Regions from separate parts of the Homo sapiens genome. Here region 1 is linked to region 2. A link means that fine-mapping ties the variant in region 2 to the expression of a gene that starts in the linked region. Tissue or cell type: cerebellar hemisphere. Region 2 holds a variant in brackets; the other region holds the start of a gene. All regions are shown on one strand. Distances are from middle to middle.

Region 1 (8,000 bases), 290 kb after region 2:
CCGGGTTCAAGCGATTCTCCTGACTCAGCCTCCCGAGTAGCTGGGATTACAGGCATGCGCCACCACGCCCAGCTAATTTTTGTACTCTTAGTAGAGATGGGGTTTCAACATGTTGGCCAGGCTGGTCTCGAACTCTTGACCTCGTGATCCGCCTGCCTCGGCCTCCCAAAGTGCTGGGATTACAGATGTGAGCCACCATGCCCGGCCCCTCGTTTGCTTTTATAAGCAGAGAAAAATCTCTTCCTCACCCCTCACCCCTGGCTGCCGAGCTCCTCGTCTCAACAACTGACCTGGCTGTCATTGGTTGCCCCAGGGGTGAGACCTGGCAAAGAGGGGCAGGGGAGGGCCACACTTTTATTGGGAAATCAGCCTGCCCCAGAGCACAGGTTCACTTCAGTGTCAGACACGTTTAGTGTCAGATTAATAAAGATGGATATTAAAAACACAACAGGCCAAGCGTGGTGGCTCACACCTGTAACCCCAGCACTTTGGGAGGCTGAGGCGGGCAGATCACCTGAGGTCAGGAGTTCAAGACCAGCCTGGCCAACATGGAGAAACCCCGTCTCTACTAAAAATACAAAATTAGCTGGGTGTGATGGCGCATGCCTGTAATCCCAGTTACTAGGGAGGCTGAGGCAGGAGAATCGCTTGAACCTGGGAGGCTGAGCGGAGATCACGCCATTGCACTCCAGCCTGGGCAACAAGAACGAAACTCGGTCTCAAAAACAACAACAACAACAAAAAACAAACTGCAACTTCTAGACCCTGACAGCTCTCCTCCCCTTAGCCCCATCTCGAGGGAAATTCTGCCTCTGGCCTCAGCCGGGACAGCTCTGAGCCATGGGACTCAGAGATCTCCACACACTGGGCCAAGAACTCAGGGCTAGAATCTTATAGAACCAGGAAAAGGGGACTCTCCCCCTAAAAATGCAAACACGGTTTGTGGGGCCCCAAGCTCTTTTGTGGGGGCGGGGCCAGGGTGTTACCTGGGGAAGCCTGAGCGCACATGGAGCCCGTCCACGTTCTGGCTGACCAGGAAGCGGAGGAGGCCCACGCGCTCCAGCTGCACCAGCGCCATGTGGGTCTGCGTGGGCCGCGCGCTCTCAAAGGTGGTGTCGAACTTGGGGGCCAGACCTCGCTCCTCCATGGTCCAGACTCCGTGGGGACCCCTGAAGGTGGCAGGCCGGGAGAGATGGACGGGGAGAGGGGAACAGAAAAAGAGACAGAGGGAGAATCAGAGAGGTATAGAGAGAAAGTTGGAGAGAGAGAAAATCAGGAGACAGAGAGAGACAGGGAGACAGAGAGAGGGAATCAGAAACAGAAATAGAGGGTGAGTTGCAAGAACAGGGAGAGGGGGATAGAACAAGACACAGACAGAGAGATAAAGAGTTAAAGACAAAGCAAGTCAGAGACAGAATTGGAGAGAGACAGAGAGAGGGAGAGGCAGAGAGAGAGAGATGAATTCACACGAAGGCAAAAATGACTTATTCTATTCAACCAACACTGCTGCTGCAATGAGCCCGACGATGCTCACATGGGCCCAAGCCCTGCCCTCCAGAAGCCCTTGATCTTGGGGGAGACAGGTGGACACAGATCCTCTGGCCCCAAGAGTCAAGCCTGGATCAGAGGAGGTACCTGGGCCTGGGGAAGCCCCGTGGAGGTGGGGGCCCTGGGGCACGTGGAAGGGCTTCCTGGAGGAGGCTAAGCAGTTTCTTGAAGGGTGAGAGGGAAGATCAGACAGAAGGGGTAAACAAAGGCCTGGGTGCTGGGAAGAGCCCATGAGTTTAGGAGAAAATGCAAGTGTTTTGGGGGCTGCAGCAGGAGCAGGAGGGGCTGAAGTTGGAGAGGTGATTCAGGGCTGGGGCAGGAAGGGCTTCAGCTTCCAGCACAAGGTATTCAGAACTCTACACTGCCTGGCAATGGGGAGCCACAGCAGGTTATGGAAGAGGAGAAGGAGGAGAAATTCACGCCTTGGCTTTTTTTTTTTTTTTTTTTTTTTTTTTTTGAGATGGAGTCTGGCTCTGTTGCCCAGGCTGGAGTACAATGGCATGATCCTGGCTGACTGCAACCTCTGCCTCCCGGGTTCAAGCGATTCTCCCACCTCGGCCTTCCAAGTAGCTGCGATTACAGGTGCCTGCCACCACACCTGGCTACGCTTGCAAATATGAAAGACTACATTTCCCAGCAACCCTTGCAGCCAGGTGTGATCAGGTGACCGTGTTCTGGCCAATGAGGTGAGTGGAATGCTGGTTGTGACAAGGGACACATCTTTTTGTTTTGTTTTTAGACGGAGCCTCACTCTGTCGCCCAGGCTGGAGTGCAGTGGTGCAATCTCGGCTCACTGCCTCCACCTCCCAGGTTCAAGCAATTCTCCTGCCTCAGCCTCCCGAGTAGCTGGGACTACAGATGTGTGCCACCACAACTGGCTAATTTTTGTATTTTTAGTAGAGACAGGGATTCACCATATTGGCCAGGCTGGTCTGGAATTCTTGACCTTGTGATCCACCATGCCCAGCCAAGGGACACATCTTAAAGGGAGTACCCAGGACACATCCAGGAGGAAAGCAGATGGATGTGTTCTCATTCCCAGATGTGTGTGGCTCGCAGGGAAGCCTCTGGCAGCCTGGTAGGCCTTGCCTCGACTTCCCCTGCACAATCACAGACCTGAAGTCGGGGATGCCAGAGGCAGTGCTGATGCCGGCACCCGTGTGGAACACCACACTGGAAGACTGCCAGACCAGCCTCGCCAGTTCCCACACCTTCCGCTCCAGCTCCTCCGGGGGGTCGAAGATCTGTGGGGGGAGAGAGCAGACGGAGGGGTCAAAACAGTTCCCCCAAGTGGCAAGGCCACGCACGAGCCACAGACTGAGCTGTCCCTGTCTTGCCTGAGGGAGGAAAATGGATTGGAAAAGGCAGCTTGTCCTCATGCCCCTCCTCTTCCTACAACCTTCCATGCCTCCCACCTGCCTTGTCAAAGCCCTAGCCCTTCCCACGGCCCACCAGGCCCTGCACTACCTCCCTTGCCCCCTCCCTGCCCTCTTCTCCTCCCTCTCCCTGCCTCACTCTGCTCCAGCCACACAGGTCTCCTCCTTGTTCCTCTATCACACCAGGCACAGTCCCGCCTCAGGGCCACACCCTTTAATGCTCTTCCCCCAGATACCCACATGGCTCCCTCCCTCACCTCCTGTAACTTGTGGCTTAGATGTCACTTCAGTGACAGTGATGCCTCCCTTGGCCAACTGGTTTCCATGCAACCCCTAGTCAGTCTCCCTTACTAGAAGGAGGGGTTTTTAATCTGTGTTGCTCCTGGCTGTGGCCTTAGTACCTAGAAAGTGCCTGAGCTACAGTAAGTGCTCTATAAATGTTGGTGGAATAAAGTGACTAACAGGCCGGGTATGGTGGCTCACGCCTATAATCCCAGCACTTTGGGAAGCCAAGGTGGGTGGATCACTTGAGATCAAGAGTTCAAGAGCAGACTGGCCAACATGGTGAAACCCCGCCTCTACTAAAAATACAAAAATTAGCCAGGCGTGGTGGCAGGTGCCTGTAGTCTCATCTACTCTACTCAGGAGGCTGAGGCAGGAGAATCGCTTGAACCTAGGAGGCGGAGGTTGCAGTGAGCCGAGATCGCGCCACTGCACTCCAGCCTGGGCGACAGAGAAACTCCATCTCAAAAATATAATAATAATAATAATAAAGTGACTAACAGCAGCAGTGAAGAGTGGGGCTTCTGGACGGGCGCACACCATCAGCGCTCATTAAATGCATGAGTCAGAATGCATGGGCCAGCCTTATGGAATGGGGCCATCTTCACCTCGTTTGCAGAAAGTTTGGAGATGGAGACCCAAAAGGGAAGTGACTTCCCCAAAGTCCCACAGTGCGTGGAGGGGGCAGCCGATCCCTCCACTTCCCCTCTGAGTGGCTGGAGGGATCTTTCTGGCACATTCTGTCCAGTCCCCTCGCCAGGGCAAAACCCTTCCCCATCACCCTCAGGATAAAGTGCCAACTCCCCAGCCTGGCATTTGAGCCCCGTCCTGGCCCGGCTCTGGAAACCTCCCAGGCCTAATCGTTCTCCAGGTGTGTTTATTCCCACCTCCCTTTGCGCCTGTCGTCCCCTCTTCCTGGAACTACATCCCCTCTCTCCCCGATCAGCCCCGACAGGGTGACCACAGAGTTGGGCGTGTTGGCGTCCCCCGGCGCGCAGGGGCGTCACTTCCCGCCCCTTCCTCACTGGGAAGTCCCTCCCATTGTCTAGCCTCAGTGCCCCCTGATATTCCCACAATGCCCCCCTGCCATCCGGCCGCTCCCAGCCCGCGGCCCTGGGGCGCGATGCTCGGGACCCTCAGACGCGCTCACCTCCGGGAGGCCGCACTTGCCCTTGTCCGCGTACGGCGACAGCCCCGCCGCGTAATTCACCGACATCCTCGACTGCCCCACGGGAACAATAAAGTTTCCCTTGTTGAGGCCGCTTCCGCCGGAAGCGGGGCGGGGCGGGGAAGAAGGAGGAACCGCGTTCCAGTCCTGCGCACCCGGCCTCCCACGGCAAGGCGCATGCGCCTCTTGCTGACGCCGCAGGCGACATGTTATCTGCTGTCAGAAGGAAGCCTGCCTCTTTGCATGCAGGTGTTTGCGGGGCTTGGGAAGGGGCTCCCCGATGACCCGGGCGGGAAATTGGGGCGGCCGCCTACGTGAGAGTTCTCCAGTCACCTCTAAAATGCGGGACACAGGCTATCCATGTCCCCACAACCCCTTTTACGGATTAGTAAATTCCGTAAGGACAGAGCCGGACAGCAGGGACCCCAGCCTAAGGGTTTTGAATGCCACGCAGAGTTACCTGAATATCTCATTTGTGTGTGTGTGTGTGTGTGTGTGTGTGTGTGTGACGGAGCCTCGCTCTGTTGCCCAGGCTGGAGTGCAGTGGCGCAATCTCGGTTCACTGCAACCTCCGCCTCTTGGGTTCAAGCGATTCTCCTGCCTCAGCCTCCCTAGTAGCTGGGATTACAGGCGCCCGCCACCACACCCAGCAAATTTTTGTATTTTTTAGTAGAGACGGGGTTTCTCCATGTTGGTCAGGCTGGTCCCGAACTCCTGACCTCAGGTGATCTGACCGCCTCGGCCTCCCAAAGTGCTGGGATTACAGGCGTGAGCCACTGCGTCCGGCCAAGTTATCTGAGTATCATCCAACTGGAGGTTCTGCATTCTGCAGGACAGGTCCTGCTCAAGGTCAATGGGGCTGGTGGCCTGGAGGACTCATTTAAGAATCATGTGTTGAGTACCTACTTTGTACTGGGCACACTGGAGAGCAAAGGTGGTACCATCTATGCCCTGGTGGCTGCGGGTGGACACAAACATGTGACCAGGTAATGGTGACATGGTGTGGTTGGGGTGCAATGGGTGATGCAGAGGGCACAGGGCAGTGAGGGGGCTCACAGGAGGCACCTGACCCAGGCTGGGGGCATCCGGGAGGGCTTCCTGGAGGAGGGGATGTTGCAGCAAAGATCTAAAAAGTGAGTGAGCCGGGCGCAGTGGCTCACACCTGTAATCCCAGCACTTTGGGAGGCCAAGGCAGGTGGATCACCTGAGATTGGGAGTTCGAGACCACCCTGACCAACATGGAGAAACCCCGTCTCTACTAAAAATACAAAATTAGCTGGGTGTGGTGGCCTGTAATCGCAGCTGCTCGGGAGGCTGAGGCAGGAGAATTGCTTGAACCCAGGAGGCGGAGATTGCGGTGAGCCGGAGATCGCGCCATTGCACTCCAGCCTGGGCAACAAGCATGAAACTCCGTCTCAAAAATAAATAAATAAATAAATAAAGAGTGCATGAGTCAGGTAGAGCCGGTTGGGGTGACATGAAGTACAGAAAGAATGTTCCTGGTGGGGGGAACAGCAAGTGCAAAGGCTGAGAAAGAGGAAGAGCATGGCTCCTTCCAGAAACTGAAATCAGTCCAGTGATGATAGGGAAGATCGTGGGTGTCTTCCCGCCAGAGCCAGTTGGCCAACAGGCAGTCCGCTGCCAGCCTGTCTCCTCCCTCGGCTCATCCCCGGCCCCCTGGGGCGGCCGCCTGCTCAGAGCCGATCAGGTGTCAGAGTGGAGCGGCTGGAGCTGCTCGTGGCCCAGCTGGGAGTGGGTAACCGGAGCCGGCAGTGGGCACTGTGGCCGGGAGCTCGGGGCACTGGAGCTGCAGGAGGTAGGGGAGGAAGGAGGTGGGAGAGGCCCAGGACGGAGGATCCCCTTATGGCCCCAGGCCCCTGAGCCCTTGTATGTGGGAGAAAGAAGCCGTGCTGAGTCCTAGCCAGGCTGCGGAGCTACCCAGGTACCCTGACACACACATGCACTCGTTCACCCACGCACTTCCCACTTGCCGGCCTGTGCCCTGCCTAGCTTCCTCCAAGGCAGGTGCTCAACATCCCACCCGGCCATCAGGCCCTTCTTATTTACCATCACCTCTTCCAGCAAGCAGCTTCCTAAATTTAGCAGGCGTTTCTCCCTCCCCCAAGCCCACGGATTGTCTTCTCCCAAGCAGCCTGTGAACTCCTCTGTTGGGTGTCTTATTACCCCCTGCTTTGGGTGTGATTGAATCCTCCAGTCAGAGGTAGAAGAAAAAAGGGTAGGTAGTGAGTGAATGGGCACCGGTGGAGGGGTAGATGAATGGATGGGTGGGTGGATGGATGGGGGGCGAATAGGTGGATTGGTGGTTTGGTAGATGGGTGAATGGGTAGATGTATGGATGGATGGGTGGATGGATGAATGGGTGGGTGATTGGGCAAATGGATGGAGGGATGGATAAGTGGATGGATGGATGGATGGAAGGATCCATGGATGGACTGGTGGGTGGGTGGATGGATGCACTGGTGGGTGGGTGGGTGGATGGATGGATTGGTGGTTGGGTGGGTGGATGGAGGGATGGATAAGTGGATGGATGAGTGGATGGGTGGGTGGGTGGATGGGTGGATGGGTGTGTGATTGGGTGGGCAGATGGGTGGATGGATGGATGCTTGGGCAGATGGATGGATGGGTGGTTGGGTGGATGGATGAAGGGATGGATAAGTGGATGGATGGGTGGATGAGTGGATGGATGAATGGTGGGAGTTGGTAGGTGTTTGGGTGGGTGGATGGATGTGTGGGTGAAATCTGATTAAAGGGTGATGAAGAACCATGAGAACATGAATTGGGTGGGTGGGTTTGTGGGTGGTGGCCAGTGGGTGGTTATACAGTGCTTAGGTGGGAGGATGGATGTCCAGGTGAGTGCATAGGTGGTAAATGCGTGGAAGGGTGGCTTGGAGAATTCACGAGTAGATAGGTGGACAGGTAGAGGCCATGCCAACCCCTACTCCTTGGTAAGAGGCAAATACAGATTCTCCATCACAGAAATCCCTTTCACACATAGGGCCTCACAGTCACACCCCTCAAAAAACACACCCCCTCAAGATAGGCCTGCCTGACCTCCGTGCCTGCCCATGCGGAACGTAGAACAGGCCCAGGTGGACAGAAGTGCACGTGTGCACACGCCCCACACTCAACGTCACACACATGCATGCAGCCATTGCCCCAGACCTCCACCCACTATGGGTGAATTGCTGTCACATGGAGGTTCCCTCTGACTATGTAGCAAACATGCCTCTGTGCTGAGAGCCGTCAGCCCTGGCTTCAGTCCCCAGGGAGCCCCTGACTGTTGAAAAGGACAGAATCAGCCCAGACCCTTCCAGCCCATGGAGCCAGGGGTGAGGCAGAGGCAGAGACCCAGCCAGGGTAGGCGGGAACCCAATTTGGGGAGTTAGATCTCTGCTTGGGAACAAGAGGCAAAGCTGATAAGAGCAAGGGATTTTGGAACTGGGCTTTGAAGGATGAGTAGGAGTTCAGAGAAGAAAAAAGAAACCATTCTAGGCAGAAATAACTGCACAGGTAAAAGTTAGGAGACCAGAAAAGGCTTGATCTGTTTGGACCGCAGGAAATACCAGTGAGATGCATTTATGAAGCCCCTCATGTTTGGCCAGGCT
Region 2 (8,255 bases):
AAGTGATCTGCCCAAAGTGCTGGAATTCCAGGCATGCACCACTGCACCCAGCCCCTAGACGCTTTAAAAAGTGGATCTAGTGGCCCGGCAGGGTGGCTCACACCTGTAATCCCAGCACTTTGGGAGGCAGGTGGATCATGAGGTCAGGAGTTCGAGACCAGCCTGGCCAATATAGTGAAACCCCATCTCTACTAAAAATACAAAAATTAGCTGGACGTGGTGGCACGCGCCTGTAGTCCAAGCTACTCAAGAGGTGGAGGTTGCAGTGAGCCGAGATCGCACCACTGCACTCTAGCCTGGGCGACAGAGCGAGACTCTGTCTCAAAAAAAAAATGACAACAAAAAAAGTGGATCTAGCTACTCGGAAGCTGTTGAGAGACAGACAGAGGTAATGGAAGGACAGAGTGTACAATACTCTATAATGACTGCCGGACACAGGCCTGAAATCCTTTCGCAAACACGGGAATGCACACAGAAATGACTATTGCCTTTAAGACAAGGTTTCTCCACCTTGGATCTATGGATATTTGGGACCCAGTCATTCTTGGTCATGGGCGGCCATCCTGGGCACTGTAAGGTGCTGAGCAGCACCCCTGGCCTGCCCAGGGGGCACTCCTTCCCCTCAGTTGTGACAAAAGTGCCTCTAGACAATGCCAAGTGTCCCCTTGCAGCAGGGGAGGCAGAATTGTCCACAGGTGCAAAGCACTGGTTTCAAAGCCCAAAACAGATGGGGTTGGTTGAGTCATAAGATGCTGGTATGTTATGTCCAAAAGGTATCTTAGAGGTCATCTCTAATTCAACTCTTTTGTTTACAGAAAGGGAAACTGAGACCCAGAGAGGGAGATGGTCTGAGAGTCTGCCATGCCCCAGAGCAGACCACAACTCAGTCTCACCTGGCAGCTCTGATCCTGGCCCCCACCCAGACTGCTCCCCCCTGCCCTGCCCCTGCCCCTGCCCCCAGTGAGCTCCTCAGAACAAGAAAAACAAAACTGGTGTGGGGGGTGGGGCGGCACAGTGGCTCACACCTGTAATCCCAGCGCTCTGGGAGGCTGAGGCAAGAGGATCACCTGAGCCCGAAAGTTCAAGACCAGCCTGGGTGACATACCAAGATCAGAGAAATTAGCCAGGCATGATGGCACACACTCGTGGTCCCAGATACTTGGGAGGCTGAGGCAGGAGGATCGCTTGAGCCCAGGAGTTGGAGGCTGTAGTGAGCTGGGATCACACCACTGCACTCCAGCCTGGGCGACAGAGCAAGACCCCGTCTCTAAATAAATAAATAAATAAATAAAGTGGCATTTTGTGGTAGTAAAGATGAGGGTCTCCTTTCTAACCCCAGTCTCTTTCCACACTGCCTTAGTGAGCCCTGGAGTCAGAAAGTCACTAGGACTTGCTTGAGGGAGGACAGAGAGGCAGGACAGGTGGCCTGGTACATATGGCAGATAGCGATGGGTTAGAGCCTACTGGATTCTCTTTGAACTTGGCATTCCCAGCACGGAAGCTGAAGTATATCAGCCATTCACACTTTAGTATGAATGACTGTTTGGATTTCTTGCTTTCTAGTTGAGGTCCAAGGCACAAGAGGGAGGGTAAGTCTATCTGGGTCATGGCTCACCCTGGAGAAGGTAGATTTCGAAGTTTCCAAGGGAGCAGGACTTGTATCTGAAGGCTCAGCCTCTCGCCCACGTTCAAACTCTGAACCCCACTGTGCATCCTAAGCTCTCTGTGCCTCTGTTTTCTCATCTGTAAAACAGGGGAACCTCATGGGGCTCGGTGATGGTTCAATAAGAAGTGCTGGCCGGGCACAGTGGTTTACCCTTGTAATCTCAGCGCTTAGAGAGGCCGAGGCAGGAGGATTGCTTGAGCCCAAGAGTTTGAGACCACCCTGGCCAACATAGCAAGACCCAATCTCTTAAAAAAAGATTTTAAAAAATTACCCAGGCATGATGGTACACACCTGTGGTCACAGCTACTGGTGGGGGGCTGAGGCAGGAGGATTGCTTAAGCCCAGGAGTTCAAGGCTGCCATGAGCCATGATTGTGCCCCTGCACTCCAGCCCAGGCAACAGAGCAAGATCATGTTTTTTTTTTTAAAAAAAAAAAAAAAAAAAAAAAAAACAGCCAAGCTCAGTGGCTCACCCCTGTAATCCCAGCACTTTGGGAGGCTGAGGCGGGTAGACCGCTTGAGCTCAGGAGTTTGAGACCAGCCTGGCCAACACAGTGAAACCCCGTCTCTATTAAAAATACAAAAATTAGCCGGGTGTGATGGCTCAAGCCTGTAATCCCAGCACTTTGGGAGGCCAAGGCAGGAGGATCACCTGAGGTCAGGAGTTCGAGACCAGCCTGGCCAACATGGCGAAACCCTGTCTCTACTAAAAATACAAGAATTAACCAGGCGTGGTGATGGGTGCCTGTAACCCCAGCTACTTGGGAGGCTGAGGCGGGAGAATCGCTTGAGCCTGGAAGGTGGATGTTGCAGTGAGCTGAGATGGCACCATTGCACTACAGCCTGGGCAACAGAGCAAGACTCCGTCTCAAAAAAGAAGAAGAAGAAGGAGAAGGAGAGAGGAGAGGAGAAAGGAGAGAGGGGGAGGGGAAGGGGGAGGGGGAGACGGAGGGGGAGTGGGAGGGGGAAGAGCTGCATGGGGTAGACGATTGTCATTAGGACTATTGTCCAGTAAAACCCATTCCTCTGCGGCTTCCTTTCAGGGGTCATCCCTGCTTCAAGCCAGTGCCTCTTCCCAGCTCCCATGGGGACCACCGAAGCCACGCTCCGGATGGAAAACGTGGACGTGAAGGAGGAATGGCAGGACGAAGATCTTCCCAGGTAGGACTTCCACATCCCTGAGTCAACCGTTGGGGGAGCAGGTGTCTCTCCCAGGTGGGACACAGGAGCGGCCCGGGTCTCTCTCTAAGTGGGAACCGCCCGGGGCTGGCCTGGTTCCATCTCCGCGTCCTCCTCTCCCGCACACTCTGGGAGGCCTGAGGCCCTGTGTGCGAGTCTTCTCTGTGGCCTCACAGTGGGGTAGTCCTGGCCAGGCACATAATGGGTATTTGCTCAATGATTTAAGATTCATTTCTGTCTTCCCTGCCCCAAAGCTCCAAAGGACCCCCCACCCCTACACCATTTTAAGAGTTCTTAACATTCTGGCTGGGCGCGGCGGTTCACGCCTGTAATCCCAGCACTTTGGGAGGCCGAGGTGGGCGGATCACTTGAGGTCAGGAGTTCGAGACCAGCCTGGCCAACATGGCAAAACCGCGTCTCTACTAAAACTACAAAAATTAGCTGGGCATGCCGGGCGCAGTGACTCATGCCTGTAATCCCAGCACTTTGGGAGGCCGAGGCGGGCGGATCATGAGGTCAGCAGATGGAAACTATCCTGGCTAACATGGTGAAACTCCATCTCTACTAAAAATACAAAAATTAGCCGGGTGTGTGGCAGGCGCCTGTAGTCCCAGCTACTCGGGAGGCTGAGGCAGGAGAATGGCGTGAACCCAGGAGGCGGAGCTTGCAGTGAGCCGAGATCGCGCCACTGCACTCCAGCCTGGGCGACAGGTGAGACTCCATCTCAAAAGAAAAAAAAAAAAATTAGCTGGGTATGGTGTCATGCGCCTATAATTCCAGCTACTCGGGAGGCTGAGGCACCATGGTGATTTATTAGCAGCCTTTAGGAGACACTTACCTCCCCTAACATGCTGAACTTTTTTTTTTTTTTTTTTGAGTCTCACTCTGTCCCACAGGCTGGAGTGCAGTGGCACGATCTCAGGTCACTGCAACCTCCAGGTCCTGGGTTCCAGTGATTCTCCTTCCTCATGCCCCCGAGTAGCTTGGATTACAGGCACCCGCCACCACATCTGGCTGATTTTTCTATTTTTAGTAGAGACCGGATTTCACCATGTTGGCCAGGCCAGTCTCGAACTCCGAAAGTGCTTGGATTCCAGGCAAGAGCCACCGCGCCCGGCCCCTACGCTGAACATTTTGCAGGGACATCTTGTCTACACTCTGTCTCCCCACCACACGGAGCGCCACAAGAGCAGGGGTCTTTGTTTAGCTCACTGCTGTATCCCAACCTAAGGATAGTGCCTGGCATACAGTCGGCGCTTAACAAATATTGGGTGACAGGTGCTGATCACTGGTCAGAATAAGAAATCACAGGGGCTGGGCACGGTGGCTCACGCCTATGATCCCAGCACTTACAGAGGCTCAGGCTGGGGGGATTGATAGAGCTCAAGAGTTCGAAACCAGCCTGGGCAAGATAGTGAGACCCCATTTCTACCAAAAAAAAAAAAATTAGCTGGGCATGGTGGTGTGCACCTGCAGTCTTAGCTACTTGGCAGGCTGAGACAGGAGGATCCCTTGAGCCCAGAAGGCAGAGGTTGCAGCGAGCCATGATTGCAGCCCTGCACTCCAGTCTGGGTGACAGAGCGAGACTCTGTCTCTATTTTATTTTATTTTTTTTATTTTATTTATTTATTTATTTATTTTTGAGACAGAGTGTCGCT[T/C]TGTCGCCCAGGCTGGAGTGCAGTGGCGCGATCTTGGCTCACTGCAAGCTCCGCCTCCCGGGTTCACGCCATTCTCCTGCCTCAGCCTCCCGAGTAGCTGGGACTACGGGCACCCGCCACCACGCCCGGCTAATTTTTTGTATTTTTAGTAGAGACGGGGTTTCACCATGTTAGCCAGGATGGTCTCGATCGTCTGACCTCGTGATCCGCCCACCTCGGCCTCCCAAAGTGCTGGGATTACAGGCGTGAGCCATCGCGCCCTACCACCTGTCTCTATTTAAAAAGAGAGGAAAAAAAAAAAAAAGGCCGGTCGCTGTGGCTCAGGTGTGTGTAATCCCAGCACTTTGGGAGGCCAAGGTGGGCAGATCACAAGGTCAGGAATTTGAGACCAGCCTGGCCGACATAGTGAAACCCTGTCTCTACTAAAAATAAAAATTAAAAAAAATTAGCTGGGCATGGTGGTGCACGCCTGTAATCCCCAGTACTCGGGAGGCTGAGGCAGGAGAATCACTTGAACCCGGGAGGCAGAGGTTGCAGTGAGCCGAGATGTGCCACCGCACTCCAGCCCGGGTGACAGTGTGAGACTCCGTCTCAAAAAAAAAAAAATACTACATGGAAAGGAAGCTGTGCGAATTTGCTGTTGAGACGTGTGACTCTGATTTGCTGGCTAAAGATAGCTGCTCATCCCTCTTCCCTTTCAGAACCAGGAATTCATCCATCCCCCAAACACAATGCCCAAGGGTCAGTTATAGAAACTATTGGGTGAGGTTCAGTCAAAAAGACCAGGTGTGTTCCGCCTGAAAAAGAGAATTGGAAAAGAATCTCCAGGCCGCGCACAGTGGCTCACGTCTGCAGTCCCAACAGTTTGGGAGGCCGAGGCGGGCAAATCACTTGAGGTCAGGAGTTCGAGGCCAGCCTGGACAACATGGTGAAACCCCGTCTCTACTAAAAATACAAAAATTAGTCGGGCGTGGTGGTGGGCACCTGTAATCCCAGCTACTCAGGAGGCTGAGGCAGGAAAACTGCTGGAACTCGGGAGGCGAAGGTTGCAGTGAGCCGAGATCGCGCCACTGGACTCCAGCCCGGGCAGTAGAGTGAGTGAGAGTGTCTCAAAAAAACAGAATCTCCAGTTCCAGGAAAATTTCAATCTGAGAGGGTTCCGGAGGGCAGAACGAGGCCAAAAGAACGAACTTAAAAGAGAATGGGGTTTGAAGGAGATACAGAAGAATGCCTTGAAGTAATCGGTCTCCTTCAAAATGAGTCAGGCTGGTGTGGGAGGCCGAGAGCTTCCTTCCCATTCATGTCCAGGCAGAAGGAGGACTGTTGAAGACGGCATCTTGATATTCAAGAACTTCAGCCCTCTCCTGAATCCAGTCATTGCCAGGCCTCTAAGGCCCATGCACCTGTCTGTGTTTCTTTGCAGCAGGAGGTCCCTGTTCTCAGAATAGCCGAGAATCAGAGAATCACGGCTGGGAGCGGAGGCTGATGTCTGTAATCCCAGCTCTTTGGGAGGCCAAGGCGGGAGGATCGCTTGAGCCCAGGAGTTTGAGATTAGCCTGGGCAACATAGCAAGACCTCGTCTCTTAAAAAAACAAAAAACAAACAAAAACTGGCTGGGCCTAGTGGCTCACACCTATAATCCTAGCACTTTGGGAAGCCAAGGCTGGCAGATCACCTGAGGTCAGGAGTTTGAGACCAGCCTGACCAACATGGAGAAACCCCGTCTCTACTAAAAATACAAAATTAGCCGGGCGTGGTGGCCCATGCCTGTAATACCAGCTACTCGGGAAGCTGAGGAAGGAGAATCGCTTGAACGCGGGAGGCGGAGGTTGCAGTGAGCCAAGATCGCACCACTGAACTCCAGCCTGGGCGACAGAGTGAGACTCCGTCTCAAAATAAATAAATAAAAATAAAAAATAAAAAAAAATTAGTCAGGTATGCTGGTGTGCACCTGTAGTTTCAGCTACTCAGGAGGCTGAGGCAGGAGGATTGTTTGGACTTGGGACATCGCAGCAGTGAGCTATGATCACACCACCGCACTCCAGCCTGGACAACAGAGCAAGACTGCATATCTAAGAAAAATAATAATAATTTTAAAATAATGTCATTTCAAGCAGCACAGCATAAACAAAGGCGCATAAGCTTTGGAATCGGACGCCCATGGTTCAAATCCCAATTCCCCAGCAGGTTTGCTCTGCCACCTGGGCTACCTCTTTGGGCATCTCAGTGCCTCTGTTTTCTGATCTGTAAAATAGGACAATAATCTCTCGCGCACCAGGTGGTCATGAAATTTTGATAAAACAGCCGAGATGGGCTGTGCAAATGGCGAAGGCAGCACAAATAAATAATCATCTCCAGCGTTATTACTATTATTAGCTTAGCTCCCTTTCCCCCTACTGATTTTTTTTTATTTCTTTACTTTTCTTTTCTTTTTTTTTTTTTGAGACAGAGTCTCGCTCTGTCACCCAGGCTGGGGTGCAGTGGCGCCATCTCAGCTCACTGCAACCTCCACCTCCTGGGTTCAAGTGATTCTCCTGCTTCAGCCTCCCAAGTAGCTGGATTACAGGCATCTGCCACCACGCCCAGCTCATCTTTGTATTTTTAGTAGAGACGAGGTTTCACCGTGTTGGCCAGGCTGGTCTCGAACTCTCAACCTCAGGTGATCTGCCCACCTCCCAAAGTGCTAGGATTACAGGTGTGAGCCATTGGGCCCAGCTCCACCTATAATTTTTTTTTTTTTTTTTTTTTTTTTTTTTTTTGCAGACAAAGTCTCACTCTGTCACCTAAGCTGGAGTGCAGTGGCGCGAGTTCGGCTCACTGCAACCTCCACCTCCCGGGTTCAAGCAATTCTCCCACCTCAGCCTCCCGAGTAGCTGGGATTACAGGCACACACCACCACACCCAGCTAATTTTTGTATTTTTGGTAGAGACGGGGTTTCACCATGTTGGCCAGGCTGGTCTCGAACTCCCAACCTCAAGTGATCCGCCTACCTCGGTCTCCCAAAGTGCTGGGATTACAGGCGCAAGCCACCACACCCGGCCTCCACCGATAATTTTAAAAGCTCTCATCTCACCCAAGCCTTCTTGAGACAAAAACCAAGGCCGAGCGCACCTGCAAATGCAAGCTGGAGGCCCTTTCTGGAAGGCGCGAGGCCAGCGGGAGCGGGAGGAGGGTGTGTTTCTGGTGGATTTCTTACAGCTGCAAGGCTTCTCGCCCACCCGCTGCAGCAGCTTTGTGTTTGCAGGACAGTGGCCTCGCTGTGCCAGCCTGGCCCCCACGAGCTACGCCTTTGCCAACAGGACACTTCCTCCACGAGGCTTCTGTCTTCCTCGTCTCTGGAAGAACTGAGTCGGCTCCTCGGTGCAGGTCCAGCTGCGGCCACACATAACCACCTCTGTCTGCCGCAAAACAGCTCACAATTCTGTTTCTTCCAGCCCAGCCATCCCCTCCCCTGGGGACTGCAGAAGTGGTCTTTGTACTGCCCTTAAGGGTGTCAGACAGAGCCCTGCATGGCCTCTGCCCTTCTAGCACTTTTTTTTTTTTTTTTGGAGACAGAGTCTCAGTGTATCACCCAGGCTGGAGTGCAGTGGTGCAACCTCAGCTCACTGCAACCTCCACTTCCTGGTTTCGAGCAATTCTCTTGCCTCAGCCTCCCAAGTAGCTGGGATTACAGGTACGCACCACCATGCCTGGCTCATTTTTGTATTTTCGTTAGAGACAGGGTTTCACCATGTTGGCCAGGCTGGTCTCGA

What was found. PIP is the estimated chance that this variant, and not a neighbour inherited with it, causes the effect.
Region 1: it holds the start of ANKRD24, and the variant in region 2 is fine-mapped to the expression of ANKRD24 in cerebellar hemisphere (GTEx, PIP 0.95).

What each region holds. Positions count from the first base shown.
Region 1 is chr19:4,178,118-4,186,117 of GRCh38, forward strand. ANKRD24 (ankyrin repeat domain 24) reads left to right here and starts at 4,572. Exons shown (of 22, transcript NM_001393985.1): 1 at 4,572-4,623. It overlaps SIRT6 (sirtuin 6), which reads right to left and starts at 4,446. Exons shown (of 8, transcript NM_016539.4): 1 at 4,357-4,446; 2 at 2,665-2,792; 3 at 987-1,169. The coding sequence starts at 4,422. RefSeq lists enhancers at 4,420-4,509, 4,580-4,629.
Region 2 is chr19:3,883,019-3,891,273 of GRCh38, forward strand. It overlaps ATCAY (ATCAY kinesin light chain interacting caytaxin), which reads left to right. Exons shown (of 13, transcript NM_033064.5): 2 at 2,709-2,826. The coding sequence starts at 2,750. Among named protein-coding and RNA genes, the nearest start is that of ATCAY, 6.5 kb to the left of the region's middle. The variant T/C (reference allele first, on the strand shown) is at 4,503.